Linked DNA regions of Homo sapiens. The protein of the gene in region 2 interacts with the protein of the main gene of each other region in a biochemical or structural test. Each region holds a gene or a part of one and is shown on either strand. Other genes may lie near its edges. The genes, in order: CAMSAP3 and KATNB1.

Evidence for each region.
Region 1: the proteins of KATNB1 (region 2) and CAMSAP3 form a complex in vitro, tested with the Homo sapiens proteins (one study listed by BioGRID).

What each region holds. Positions count from the first base shown.
Region 1 is NC_000019.10:7,591,550-7,598,897, forward strand, and holds the start of CAMSAP3 (calmodulin-regulated spectrin-associated protein 3), read left to right. Parts: upstream 1-4,313; 5' UTR 4,314-4,453; coding exon 4,454-4,601; intron 4,602-7,348. UniProt on the Homo sapiens protein: Key microtubule-organizing protein that specifically binds the minus-end of non-centrosomal microtubules and regulates their dynamics and organization.
Region 2 is NC_000016.10:57,752,770-57,757,952, reverse strand, and holds the end of KATNB1 (katanin p80 WD40 repeat-containing subunit B1), read right to left. Parts: intron 5,176-5,183; coding exon 5,025-5,175; intron 4,877-5,024; coding exon 4,686-4,876; intron 4,565-4,685; coding exon 4,434-4,564; intron 4,009-4,433; coding exon 3,958-4,008; intron 3,024-3,957; coding exon 2,956-3,023; intron 2,835-2,955; coding exon 2,715-2,834; intron 2,609-2,714; coding exon 2,459-2,608; intron 2,113-2,458; coding exon 2,036-2,112; intron 1,962-2,035; coding exon 1,887-1,961; intron 1,598-1,886; coding exon 1,481-1,597; intron 1,140-1,480; coding exon 1,007-1,139; 3' UTR 709-1,006; downstream 1-708.

The DNA.
Region 1 (7,348 bases), on a different chromosome or scaffold from region 2:
AGGCTGGAGTGCAGTGGTGCAATCTCAGCTCACCGCAATCTCTGCCTTCTGGTTTCAAGCAATTCTCCTGCCTCAGCCCCCCAAGTAGCTGGGATTACAGGCATGCACCACCACCTCTGGCTAATTTTTTTTTTATTTTTAGTAGAGATGGGTTTCTCCATGTTGGTCAGGCTGGTCTTGAACTCCGGACCTCAGGTGATCCGCCCACCTCAGCCTCCCAAGGTGCTGGGATTACAGGCGTGAGCCACTGGGCCCGGTCTTTTTTTTTTTTTTTTCTTTTTGAGATGGAGTCCTGCTCTTTCGCCCAGGCTAAAGTGCAGTGGCACGATCTCAGCTCACTGCAACCTCTGCCTCCTGGGTTCAAGCAATTCTTCTGCCTCAGCCTCCTGAGTAGCTGGGATCACAGGCGCCAGCCACCACACACAGGGAATTTTTGTATTTTTAGTAGAGATGGGGTTTCACAATGTTGGCCAGGCTGGTCTCGAATTCCTGACCTCAGGTGATGCACCTGCCTCAGCCTCCCAAAGTGCTGGGATTACAGGAGTGAGCCACTGTGCCCGGCCTGTATGTTATCTTTTTACGTATCACTTTCTGAGTGCATTTGTGTGCATGAAGCTGACATTTACATTTGTGTGAATTTGTGAATATTTGTGTGAGTCTGTGAGCACTTATTCCTGTTCACAAGGTGACAAGGTGCCTATGTATGTGTGTGTGTGTGTGTGTGTTCTGAAAGTAACACACGTTTTTCTTTTCTTTTTTTTTTTTTTTTGAGACAGAGTCTGGCTCTGTCACCCAGGCTGGAGTGCAGTGGCAAGATCTCAGCTCACTTCAACCTCTGCCTCCTGGGTTCAAGCGCTTCTCCTGCCTCAGCCTCCCAAGTAGCTGGGATTACAGGCATGTGCCACCATGCCTGGCTAATTTTTGTATTTTTAGTAGAGACAGGGTTTCACCATGTTGGTCAGGCTGGTCTTGAACTCCTGACTTCAAGTGATCCACCTGCCTCGGCCTCCCAAAGTGCTGGGATTACAGGCTTCAGCCACCGTGCCTGGCCGAAAGTAACACACTTTTCTTTCCAGGCCTGTAAAGAACGAACTCACACAAACACTTGTGCATTCACAATTATATACAGCTAAGAGGCATGCAGGGGATATTTTGACAAAAATACAATGGAGGGCCAAGCACAGTGGCACATGCCTGTAATCCCAGCACTTTGGGAGGCCGAGGTGGGAGGATCCCTTGAGCCTAGGAGTTTGAGATCAGCCTGGGCAATATAAGGAGATCCCATCTCTACACAAAACAAAAAATTAGCCAGGGATGGTGGCTGCAGTGAGCCATGATTGTGCCACTGCACTCAAGCCTGGGGTGACAGAGTGAGATCCTGTCCAAAAAAAAAATAAAACAACAACAACAAAACAAACAATAGAACAAAAGCAAATATTAAAATATTAAAAACATCCGGCTGGGCGCGGTGGCTCATGCCTGTAATCCCAGCACTTTGGGAGGCCGAGGCGGGTGGATCACCTGAGGTCAGGAGATCAAGACCATCCTGACTAACACAATGAAACCCCGTCTCTACTAAAAATACAAAATATTAGCTGGGCATGGTGGCCGGCGCCTGTAGTTCCAGCTACTGGGGAGGCTAAGGCAGGAGAATGGCGCGAACCCGGGAGGCGGAGCTTGCAGTGAGCTAAGATTGCACCACTGCACTCCAGCCTGGGTGACAGAGCGAGACTCGGTCTCAAAAAAAAAAAAAAAAACAAACAGAAAAAAAAAAACCAAAAATCCACAAATCGGTGCTTAGACCTTACAAATAAACACACAATTGCACTCATGTACACAAATATTTGTACTCAACGCGTTCACACACACTTCCATACTTACAGACACAATCAGATTCATACACAGAAATACATTTGCTTACACAGATATGAATTCCTAGATAAATATGCACATTTGAACTCTCACAAAAGCATTCAGACACAGGCATTCTTTTTTTTTTTTTTAATGTGACGGAGTCTCACTCTGTCGCCCATGCTGGAGTACAGTGGTGCAATCCTAGCTTGCTGCAACCTCTGCCTCCTGGGTTCAAGCGATTCTCCTGCCTCAGCCTCCCAAGTAGCTGCAATTATAGGTGTGGGCAACCACGCCCGGCTAACTTTTGTATTTTTAGTAGAGATGGGGTTTCACCATGTTGGCCAGGCTGGTTTTGAACTCCTGACCTCAGGTGATCCACCCGCCTCAGCCTCCCAAAGCACTGGGATTACAGGCATGAGCCACTGCACCCAGCAGAAACAGGCATTCTTGCACAGGTATACCTGCTTTCATGCCTACACAATCTGTCACAGGCACCCACCATATATTCAAATCCACAAAGATACTCACATATAAACACACATATATGCACAAAAATATAGTCAGGAACTGCTCATCATAAATCACACATCTGCTGGGCGCGGTGCCTCAAGCCTGTAATCCCAGCACTTCAGGAGGCCGAGTTGGGCGGATCACGAGGTCAGGAGATCGAGACCATCCTGGCTAACATGGTGAAACCCGGTCTCTACTTAAAAAAAAATACAAAAAACCAGCCGGGCGTGGTGGCGGGTGCCTGTAGTCCCAGCTACTCGGGAGGCTGAGGCAGGAGAATGGCATGAACCCAGGAGGCAGAGCTTGCAGTGAGCCAAGATCGCACCACTGCACTCCAGCCTGAGCGATAGAGCGAGACTCCGTCTCAAAAAATCAATCAATCAATCAATCACACATCCATGTGCATATAGCCAGATTCACATACTCAAATACAAACCCACTTAGACACACAGCCTCACCTCCACACAGAGCCTTCTCCCAGCACACACTGCAGATACCAGAATAATACACAAAGACACTTGCAAATACACCCAGTACAGCTACGCAAGGACACTCATAGACACAAATAGTCACACTCTTGCAGAAATATACACACTTTTTTTTTTTTTTTGAGACAGGGTCTCACTCTGTTGGCCAAGCTGGAGTGCAGTGGCACTATCTCAGCTTCTGCCTCCCTGGTTCAAGCGATTCTCCCGCCTCAGCCTCCCGAGTACTTGGGATTACAGGCATGCACCATTATGCCCGGCTAATTTTTAAAAATTTTATTTTTAGTAGAGACGGGGTTTTGCTATGTTGGCCAGGCTACTCTTGAACTCCTGGCCTCAAGTGATCTGCCCGCCTTGGCCTCCCAAAGTGCTGGGATTACACTCGTGGCCACCGCTCTCGGCCTGAAATACACACACTCTCAATGTCTCTCCATACTCCTGCATTGACAGAGGCATCAATAACAGCCTCATACAACACACCAGTACGTTCAGATGCACAGAGATAGACATACTCACAGCACTCCAAAAACACACACACAGCCGGGCACGGTGGCTGCCGCCTGTAATCCCAGCACTTTGGGAGGCTGAGGCGGGTGATCACCTGAGGTCAGGAGTTTGAGACTAGCCTGGCTAACATGGTGAAACCCCAACTCTACTAAAAATACAAAAATTAGCCGGGAGTGGTGGCGCAACCCCGTAATCCCAGCTACTCGGGAGGCTGAGGCAGGAGAATCGCTTGAGCCTGGGAGGCGGAGGTTGCAGTGAGTCGAGATCGCGCCACTGCACTCCAGCCTGGGAGACAGAGTGAGTGAGACCCTGTCTCAAAAACAAAAACAAAAACAAAAACAAAAAACAGACACACACTCATCACTTCCATCCATCCTCAGGATACAGACATCTATATAATACATATCCTTGTACACACAACAAATTAAACACACACTTACACGTGCCCAGATACATACCCCACACACACACACCCCTAGACACCCCCCAATACACTTGGTCACCACCCAAATGTATTCAGAGATACACAGATACGAAGACACTCATATTCTTGTGCCTTCACTAACATAATCAGAAACAGGTGCACCCAACCACTCTCTGCCTGAGGGCCGGCGTTTATTGCAAGCACTTGCAGGAGCTCCTACGCCTAAGGGTAGACACTGGGGCTGGCACACACAGAGGGTCCCTAATCCTTTCCAGTAAGCTAGGCGCGCGCGCACACACTCACACACGCGCGCGCGCACACATACACACTCAGTCCTCCGCAAGCTCCCTCCACCATCGCCGCAGTCCAGGCCGCCCCCCTCCGCCCCGCCCCTGCTGCTCCGTGCACACTGCAGTGAGGGGCCCGGGCGGGGCGCAGGGGCGCGCCAGGGTCCGGGTCCGGGTTCGGGGGCGGGGCGCACCTGGGCTCCTCCCCGGGGCGGGCCCGACGCAGCGTCGCCAGCGCAAGCGGCCGCACCTGGCTCAGCAGCGGCGGCGGCGGCGGCGGCGGCAGCGGCGGTAGCAGCAGCGGGCCCGGCTGGGGCGCGAGCGCGGCGCAGCCCAGCCCAGCCCAGTCCGAGCGCGGACCCGGCGCCCGCAGCCCCGGCGCCGCCATGGTGGAGGCGGCGCCCCCCGGGCCCGGGCCGCTGCGGAGGACCTTTCTAGTGCCCGAGATCAAGTCGCTGGACCAGTACGATTTCTCGCGGGCCAAGGCGGCGGCCAGCCTGGCGTGGGTGCTGCGGGCCGCGTTCGGGGGCGCAGGTACCGGGGCTCGGGGGACCGGGGTCGGGGGCGGCGGGCCGGGCGCGGCAGGTGCTGGGGGGGGGCGGGGCGCCGGGCCGGGAAGGCAGGGGGCCGTGGGAACAATAGCGCCGGCCGCCGGGGGTCCCCGGGCTCGGGCCCCTGCCGCGCCGGGGCCTCCGAGCTTCCTGCTCGGCCCGGGCGGTGGACTTTGCCCCGCCGGCTGCGGGAGCGCGGTGGGGGTGGGGCCCGCGGCCCAGCTCCGCGCGGGGGTCCCCGGCGTCCAAGCCTCCAGGTGAGCCGGGCGGGGTCTGCGGGCCGGGTGGGGTCTCCCCGTGCGGACCTCTCGTTCCCGCCTCCCGCACCCCCAAGGCCTTCCCTTGCACGCCTTCTTCTCTTTTACACACATCACGCCCCTGCGAGGATCTCCTCTCGGTCTCTTCCCCCGCCACACACCCTGGAGACCCAGACCCCGACCTCGCTGGGGGGTCTCGAGCGCTCCGGTCTCCACCACCGCACGACCCCCAGGCCCCAACACACACCCCGCGTCGGCCCTGGCCGCGCTGCGGGCGGCGACCGGGGAGCTCTGGGAACCCCCTTTCGCCTCCATAGCCCCCTCCAGCGCCTGGCAGCTGCGACTTATGGCCCCATTTTACTGGGGAGGTTGGCGAGCCCAGCTGAAGGGAAATGGGTAGTACAAGATCGCCTGGGGTGGGCCCCCCGCTCCTCCCGGCTGCGGGGCCTTCTCCCATTAGAGCAGATCCTTCACTCCCTCCCCCAGGCCCGCTTGCCTGAGAGCCCGAGCCACCCTAATGGGGAGGATGCCGTAATCCCGGGTCCCCGGGATTAGAGGCCCTGGAAACACTCAGTCTCGGCTTTGGGCAGCTTCACAACCCCAGGCCAGAGCTAGGAGTCAGGGCCTGGCCAGAGAAGACAGGGGTTAATTAAGGTCTGGGCTTTCCAGCGGGGAGCTGTGGGGGTACATCCTTTTCTCCCACTGGTTCTGCCCACTGGTGTTGGCACAGCCCATCCCCCCTCTCCCTGGCCTTCCCAGATCAACCTGTTCTGGGTGTGGGTCTCAGTGACAGCTGTCCGTCTCCTGGTTCCGCCCCAGCCTGTCCCTCTTTCTCCCAGACAGTCTCTGTCTGCGTCGTTCCATGCATGCATTTCCCACTCTGGGGTCTACCTCCCTGCAGATATTTGCTTGAGGAAGAAAGAGATTGGGCATTGGACAGCCAGGACAGCCCCAGCTCCTCACTTCCAAGGTTACCAGGCTGTAGAGAACTCAACGTGGAGTGTCAGAATTGAATGTGAAGTCCAGCTGCACCAGAATGCGAATTATCCCAATTATCTGAGCTTCTGTTTCCCCTTCTATAAAAGAAGGCGTTCATTCACAGACTTATCTGTTTTGCGAATGTTTGTGGGGCAGGGGCACTTGCTATGTGTAGGGCACTGCTCCAGTGATGGAGACCCCCCGTTACCTCTTTGCAAGGTTGCTGGGAGGCGTAAAAGCTGTAGTGACCACAGAATTCTTCGCGTGGCACGGGGCGCGTGATACATGCGAAACGGTTGCTCGCTGCTGGTGTGATTGGCGGTGGTATATTTTGATGAATAATATTAACGTTATCCATTATCCCCTGGCCAGGAATCAGAGTAGAAATTATCCCATTTTGAAGACAGCAAAGCAAACTTCTGATGAGGGGTGTTGGTGAGCTCCCAGTGCCCTGACTCACCCAGTTCTGTTCTTGTTGACCCAGCTCCCTCTGCTGTGTGACACACGGCAGTGGCTGCCTCTACCGTGAGGGTCAAGTTCAATCTGTTCCCTGTTCCACTCCCCTAAAAAGAGGAGAAGGGCTGAAGGAAATGGGAGCAGAGTTCTACAAGATTCATGAGCTCTGGGGACTCTTGACGGTATGATACCTATCAGGTGCTGGGCTGGGCGCTCAGGGTGTAGAGGAGACGGCAGGGGATGGATATGGGGCAGAGGGGGATGGGCAGGAAACCAGATCATAGGGAAGCTGGCCAGCGGGGCCTGGGGAAAGAAATTCTTGAAATCTTCCAGGGAGGGAAGAGATCCCACAGGTGGAAAGATTTGAGTCTGGAAGGATGCATGGAAGTTTGACACGGAGAAGAGATGTGTGGGCAGTGGGCAAAGGCTCGGAGTGTGGACCAGCAGGGAGTTCTCAGAGAATAAGATGCAGGTCCCCGGGGTGGCGGTGGGAGATAAGGGAGGCTGGTCAGACTGAGGAAGGCCCTTCAGGCCCCTGGTTATGGATCCAAGGGTACTGGGGAGCCACGGACAGTGTTGGGAACTGACAAGATCAGGTATGCAGTGGCCCCGTGGGAGTAGTGATGGCTCAGAGGAAGGGATAGTTCTGGCAACTCCAAGGCACAGGTGTGAGAAGGCTGTGCAGAAATAAAAGCAGAACACAAGCTTGGAGATTAGATAAGAAAGGGTTCCAAGCCTGGCCAACACGATGAATCCCCGTCTCTACTAAAAATCCAAAAATTAGCCGGGAATGATGGCACACGTCTGTAGTCCCAGCTACTTGGGAGGCTGAGGCAGGAGAATTGTTGAACCTGTGAGGCGGAGGTTGCAGTGAGCCGAGATTGCACCACTGCACTCCAGCCTGGGTGAAAGAGAGAGACTCTGTCTCAAAAAACAAAGGGTTCCATGTTAAACACATTTGGAAAACACCCCATGCAGTTCTTTATGCCTTCAGAACAGATGTGTGATGTGTGAGGGAAACTCAAGTTCATGTTGGACA
Region 2 (5,183 bases):
CAGGGGCATTCCTCCATGTTACTGATGGGAAGGAAACTAAGGCTGGAGAGAGCTTCAAAGGCTATCAAAGCCTTGCCCAAACCATGCTGGGCTTCCAGGTTACTGCTGGGCACCACCCACTGCCCACTCTTTGCCCTGGCCTTTTCCCTCTTCAGTGAACTGGCCAGAGGTCCACGCCACCTTCCTCCAGTGCCGAGGACCCTGACCACCCCGGGGCGGGGCTGTACCTGGTCCCTGCCTTGGGAGCAGGAGGGGGCCCACCTGTCGCAGTGCCCACGGAGCAGGGAGCCCTTTCCCGCCAGCCAGTGCTGGGGACTCCAGCAGGGAGTGACAGCTGATCGGAGCCCTGCTCAGAGGAAGGGGCAGGTGCCCTTCTAGTCCTGCCCCTGGAGGCATCCTGGGGGTGTCCATAAGACAGCTTGAGTGTAGCTGAGGTGGGGAGGAACGGGCTGGTGGGGGCCACCCCTAACCTCAACACCCAGTGGTGGAAGGGTGGTTGCCGCCTCCCCTTCCTTCCCAGTCTGCACTGGCTGAACTGGTGCTGTCCCAGAGGCCTGATTCTCTGCTGCCCCCTGCTGGCCACATGGCCCAGAGCCCCACCCCCGGGCTTGGAGGGGGTGTGGCCTCATCTCAAACCATGGGGCAGGCACTCCTGGGCCCGGGGAGCCCTGTGGCCAGCAGAAAACATTCCCCACAAGGAAACCTGGGAATAGTTACAAATTTAATAAAATTTGCCTTATAAATTACAGCAGCAGCCCCAGGGCTCAGTTCGCTGCCCCAAGAAGCAACAGTTGGGCAAAGCTGGGCAGCTATTGCTGGAGAGAGTTGTCTCAAGAGTTCAGGGCTGTAGAGGTGGCCAGGGACCAGCATCACCTCCTCCAGGACGGCCACAGGACAGCAGCAGGGGCCAGGCAGAGGCTCATGGGCCAGTGGGTGCACAAGGAACAGGAGTGGGGGCTGAGGCCAGGCCCTGTGGGCTGCCGAGCGCCCCTGCCCACTGCTTTCCTCAGTCCAGACTGGCCATGAGCAGGTGCAGCTCGCGGAAGGTACTGCCATGGCGGCCGCTCAGGCCTGACTTGCTCTTGACCAGGCCGCTGATGCTCTTAAGCTGCTTGTAGCAGAGCCGGCACTTATGCAGCCTGTAGAGAGGGCAGTGCCTGAGGGGCTAGCTGGCACCACCACCACCCACACCCAACCCCAGGGCCTTTGCTGTCCTAACTGCTCCAGCCCTTCCTCCCAAGGGAAGGCGGAGGCCCAGAGGGGAACCACCCAGGCCCTGCCAGGGATTGTGGGCACAGCCAGGCCATGGAGGAACCCAGCTCTGGCTAAGCCCACCCACACCCTGAGCCATGGCCCCAGACCAACGCCTCCTCTGTACTCTGTCCCAGCAGGACTGTCAGTAAGAGGGGCCCAGGCCTCCAGGCCTTTGTCCCCTCACCTGTTGTGGCACCCCTGCCCCCAACACATGCGCTGCCCTCACCTCTCCTCCCTGCTGATATCCACACCCACAGAGGGTGGGGCCGCCAGCATGTCTGTGATGAGGGGCAGAAACCGCTGCAGGATCAGCTTCAGGGAGGTGCAGCCCGTCTGGACGTAGCTTTAGGGGGAGATGGATGAAGTCACAGATGGACCAAGGGCCACAGACAGAAAGAGAAACAGCAAGGAACAAAGGAGGAGAGGGGCAGAAACAGACACAGACACACCCACACATACACCCACACACGCCTGTTTCCACTCCCACCTCCGGACTGTTGAGGGGCAGCAATGCTTCACAGCCAGCTCACAGGAACACCCAGGCTCTTGGGGGTCCTTCCCATGGTTCTGGAGGAGGCTTCTTACCTCTCCCCTCCCCCTGCTTCAGGCAGGCATGGCTTCCCCACACGCACCTCTCATACTTGCTCTGCAGAAGCTTCTCAATCTGTGGCAGGACGGTGGTGCACAGGTCCAGCTTCCACAGGGAGCTAGGAGAGGCCAGGACATGCTGCCATCAGCCCAGCCCTGCCCCTCCGCCCACTCCCCCTCTGCAGCCACTTACGCTTTCTGGTTGACGATGTTCAGGAGGTCCACCACCACCGACAGGTCGTTGATGGCCACAGCGGAGTCCACCGACGTCTGTGCAAACAGAGCACCGTCAGGGGTGGGGCAGTGGGGGACAGTGTGGCCCTGTGAGGGTGAGGGTGGGGGTACGAACGTGAATGTGGGTGTGCTGATGGGGCTGTGGGTATTCAGCACTGCACCTAACGCAATGAGTGTAAGGCCAGGCATGTAAACAGATGCTCACTAAACGGCAGTCTGTGATGATGATGATGATGGCGGAAACAGATGGTGTGACGTCAGGGATGGCCTATCCCACACTGTCCCCCATGGGTGGCCTCTTCTTGTTCTGCCCCAAGCCCGGGCAGGCAGGTGGCAGGGGCAGGGGGGCGAGATGAGGCCCTGTGCAAGGGTGGGCACTTGCCTTGATGTCGCCCATGGTCCACACAGCCCGCACAGTGTCCAGGTTCTTGTGGCGGCTGGTGAGCACCACACACATGGTGTCGTGGCCTTTGCGGATCTGTGACATGGCATCCTCGTCCACCAGCTCGGCCTGCTGGGGGATCTTCACGGCCTGCGTGGGATGGACACCCAGATGCTGGCATGGGAGGAGCCAGCAGCAAAGCTCTGCCCTCCACCCACAGACCTCCACCCATGCCTCGAGCTGGGCTCCTACTCACGGGCAGGAAGTCGGAGGCCTTCAGCCCGATGGGCTCGTTCCGGGTGGCAGGGATGATGGCAGGCTCAGCCTTGGGTGCAGGTGTGGAAGCAACCACTGGGGGCCGGGGCAGGACCTCCAGCTGAAAGTGTGAAACTCAGCGGTTGCCGGCCTGGGGCCTCCCTCTCTGCCTCCCGAGGCACCCCCAACCCTGGGTCAGGACCTTCTCTAGGCCCCACACCATGCTCCCTCCATGGACATACATTTGGCACCGGGAACTGCACATCCATGGCAGGGCTGGGCTTTGCTGCCTCCTTTGCTGTGGCTGCGTCTGGAGGCAAAAGGAAAAGATGACTGGGTCCGGCCAGAAGGGCCTGGCAAGAAGGGCAGGGCTCAGGGCGGGACTCTGGGCAGCATCTGCAATGGGGGGATGGAGCAGGAGCATGGGGGAGGCTGCAGGCCAGTGGCGTGGGGGTTCCAGAGGACCTGGGGCAGGCCTGGACCTGCCTCCTCCCTCTCCCCCAACTCAACCTTAGGTCTGCCTGTGGGTGGGACCCAGGGGGCTCTAGGATGTGGCCATCCTGTCCCTTCACTGGCATGTATGTGGAGGGGGCTGGGATGACTGGCAAGATGGAAGTGGAGGCTCCTAGGAAAGCCAGGACTGACGGCAAGGACGGTCCCTGAGGGGAGGGCAGGGGTACTCTACAGGACAGGTGGCCCCATGCCTGCCCGTTCTCCAACCACAGTGCAGATCATTTTTCTCCCTTCTTAATCCAAACCCCCAGCTGAGGCCTTGTGGGCCTGACCTCTTGCTGGGACTCGCCCCAGCTCACCTCCTCTCAGCTCCCTTCCTGCCAGAAGCACTTCTCTCTCTCTCTTCTCACTGGCCCCCAGGCCTTGACAGGCATTGGGCCTCCTGAGAGCCTCCCGATCATCCCGTCTACAGCAGACCCCATCTAAGGTGGGCCCCCAGTGACTCCTCTCCATCCTCCACAGCCCGAGTGCCCCTGGCAGGCCCCCCAGTGTGGTGGTGTCCATGTTTGTCCCCCACACACCAGGGCACAGGCTCCTACGGGGGCACTATCGGTCTTGCAGGGACCTGGCACATAACAGGCAGAGGGCAGAGACCCAGCGGGAGAGGGTGTGGGTCGTGTCCTGAGAGGGGAGGGTCCTGGGAAGGGGCTTGTTGGGAGGGTTCACAGGAAGAGAAGATGAGGGACGGGGGGGCATCAGAGACCTTGGGAAACCAGGCTCACCCAACTCACCGTCCTCTGGGGGTGCAGGGAAGGGCTCACTTCTCCGGGGTGGCGTCCGACCTGCAGAGGAAAGAGGCCCCTGGCTGTGAGCGCTCCTGGCCAGGCCACCTGGGACCCAGGGCCCTGTCCAGAGTGCGGGGGACGGAGGGTAGCTCCCAGGCATGCGGCTGCAGACTGTGGACCCTGCTCCTGGTCCCAGGAACCCTCAGTCCTGCCCCTCCCAGCCCACTTGTCCCTGGCAGGGCAGGGACTGGGACACTGAGCAGCTGCTGGGCCGCTGCTGGGGAGTGCCCAGGCCCCCCTCTCAGTTCCATCAGAGCACAGCCTGGCAAGGCCCAGGGAACGTGAGGACAGGATACGGAGCCCAGGTGTGGGTTAGGAGGAAGTTAAAGGGATGCGGAGCCACAGCAGGCTACCCTGGAAGGACCCCCAGCCTCCCTTTCACCGATGGGGACGCTGGGCTGGGGGCGGGAGCCCGGCCTCACTGATGCTGTTCTTGGGCTGGAAGATCTCGTTGTAGTCCTCGGCGTTCTGGATCTCCGCGCGGGACTCGCGCTCGTCCCGGTCATCCTCGCTGCTGGGGCTGCGGCGCTCGCTCTCTGAGTTCTGCTTCACCCTGGGAGCGTGAGGCCAAGCCCAACGGAAGCAGGTGCCCTGTGAGGCCCAGGGCTGGAACTCCGAGGCTTCCCCTGTGACAGTCCCTCTCCTGGGCCCCCGAAGGCCCCCCAGGCCCTCACCTCTGAGGCTTGCTGCAGGTTGTGCTGGGCCGCTCATAGATGCGCCGGAGGGGGGCGCTGGGGTTGGGCAGTGGCTGTGCCAGGGGCCGGTGGTCCTGCACAGGGTCCCGGGCCACCGTGCCAGTCCTGGTGACACGCGTCAGATCCACCACGTAGGAGGAGACGTTGCTCTGGGAGAAGGCCACACCTATCTGCAGAAAGCGGAGAGGTGGGGCTGGGACTGCAAGCCGAGGGGGCAAAATCCCAGCCCCAGTGTGGGGGTAGGAGGAGGGGCCTGGGCTGGAGGGAGGCGGGTGGCCCTGTGGGAGTGGGGGGCGGTGGGTGCCATGGCTCTCTCACCAACTGGTCATTGCAGATGGCCAGGTCGGCCACCTTGCCCCAGTTGACGAGGACCACATCAAAGCACCGCTCAGGTTCCCAGCCGTAGACACGCAGTGAGTCCTGGCAGCCGCTGTACAGGCAGCAGCCGTCTGGGTTGAAGAGGACGCTCCTGGGCCA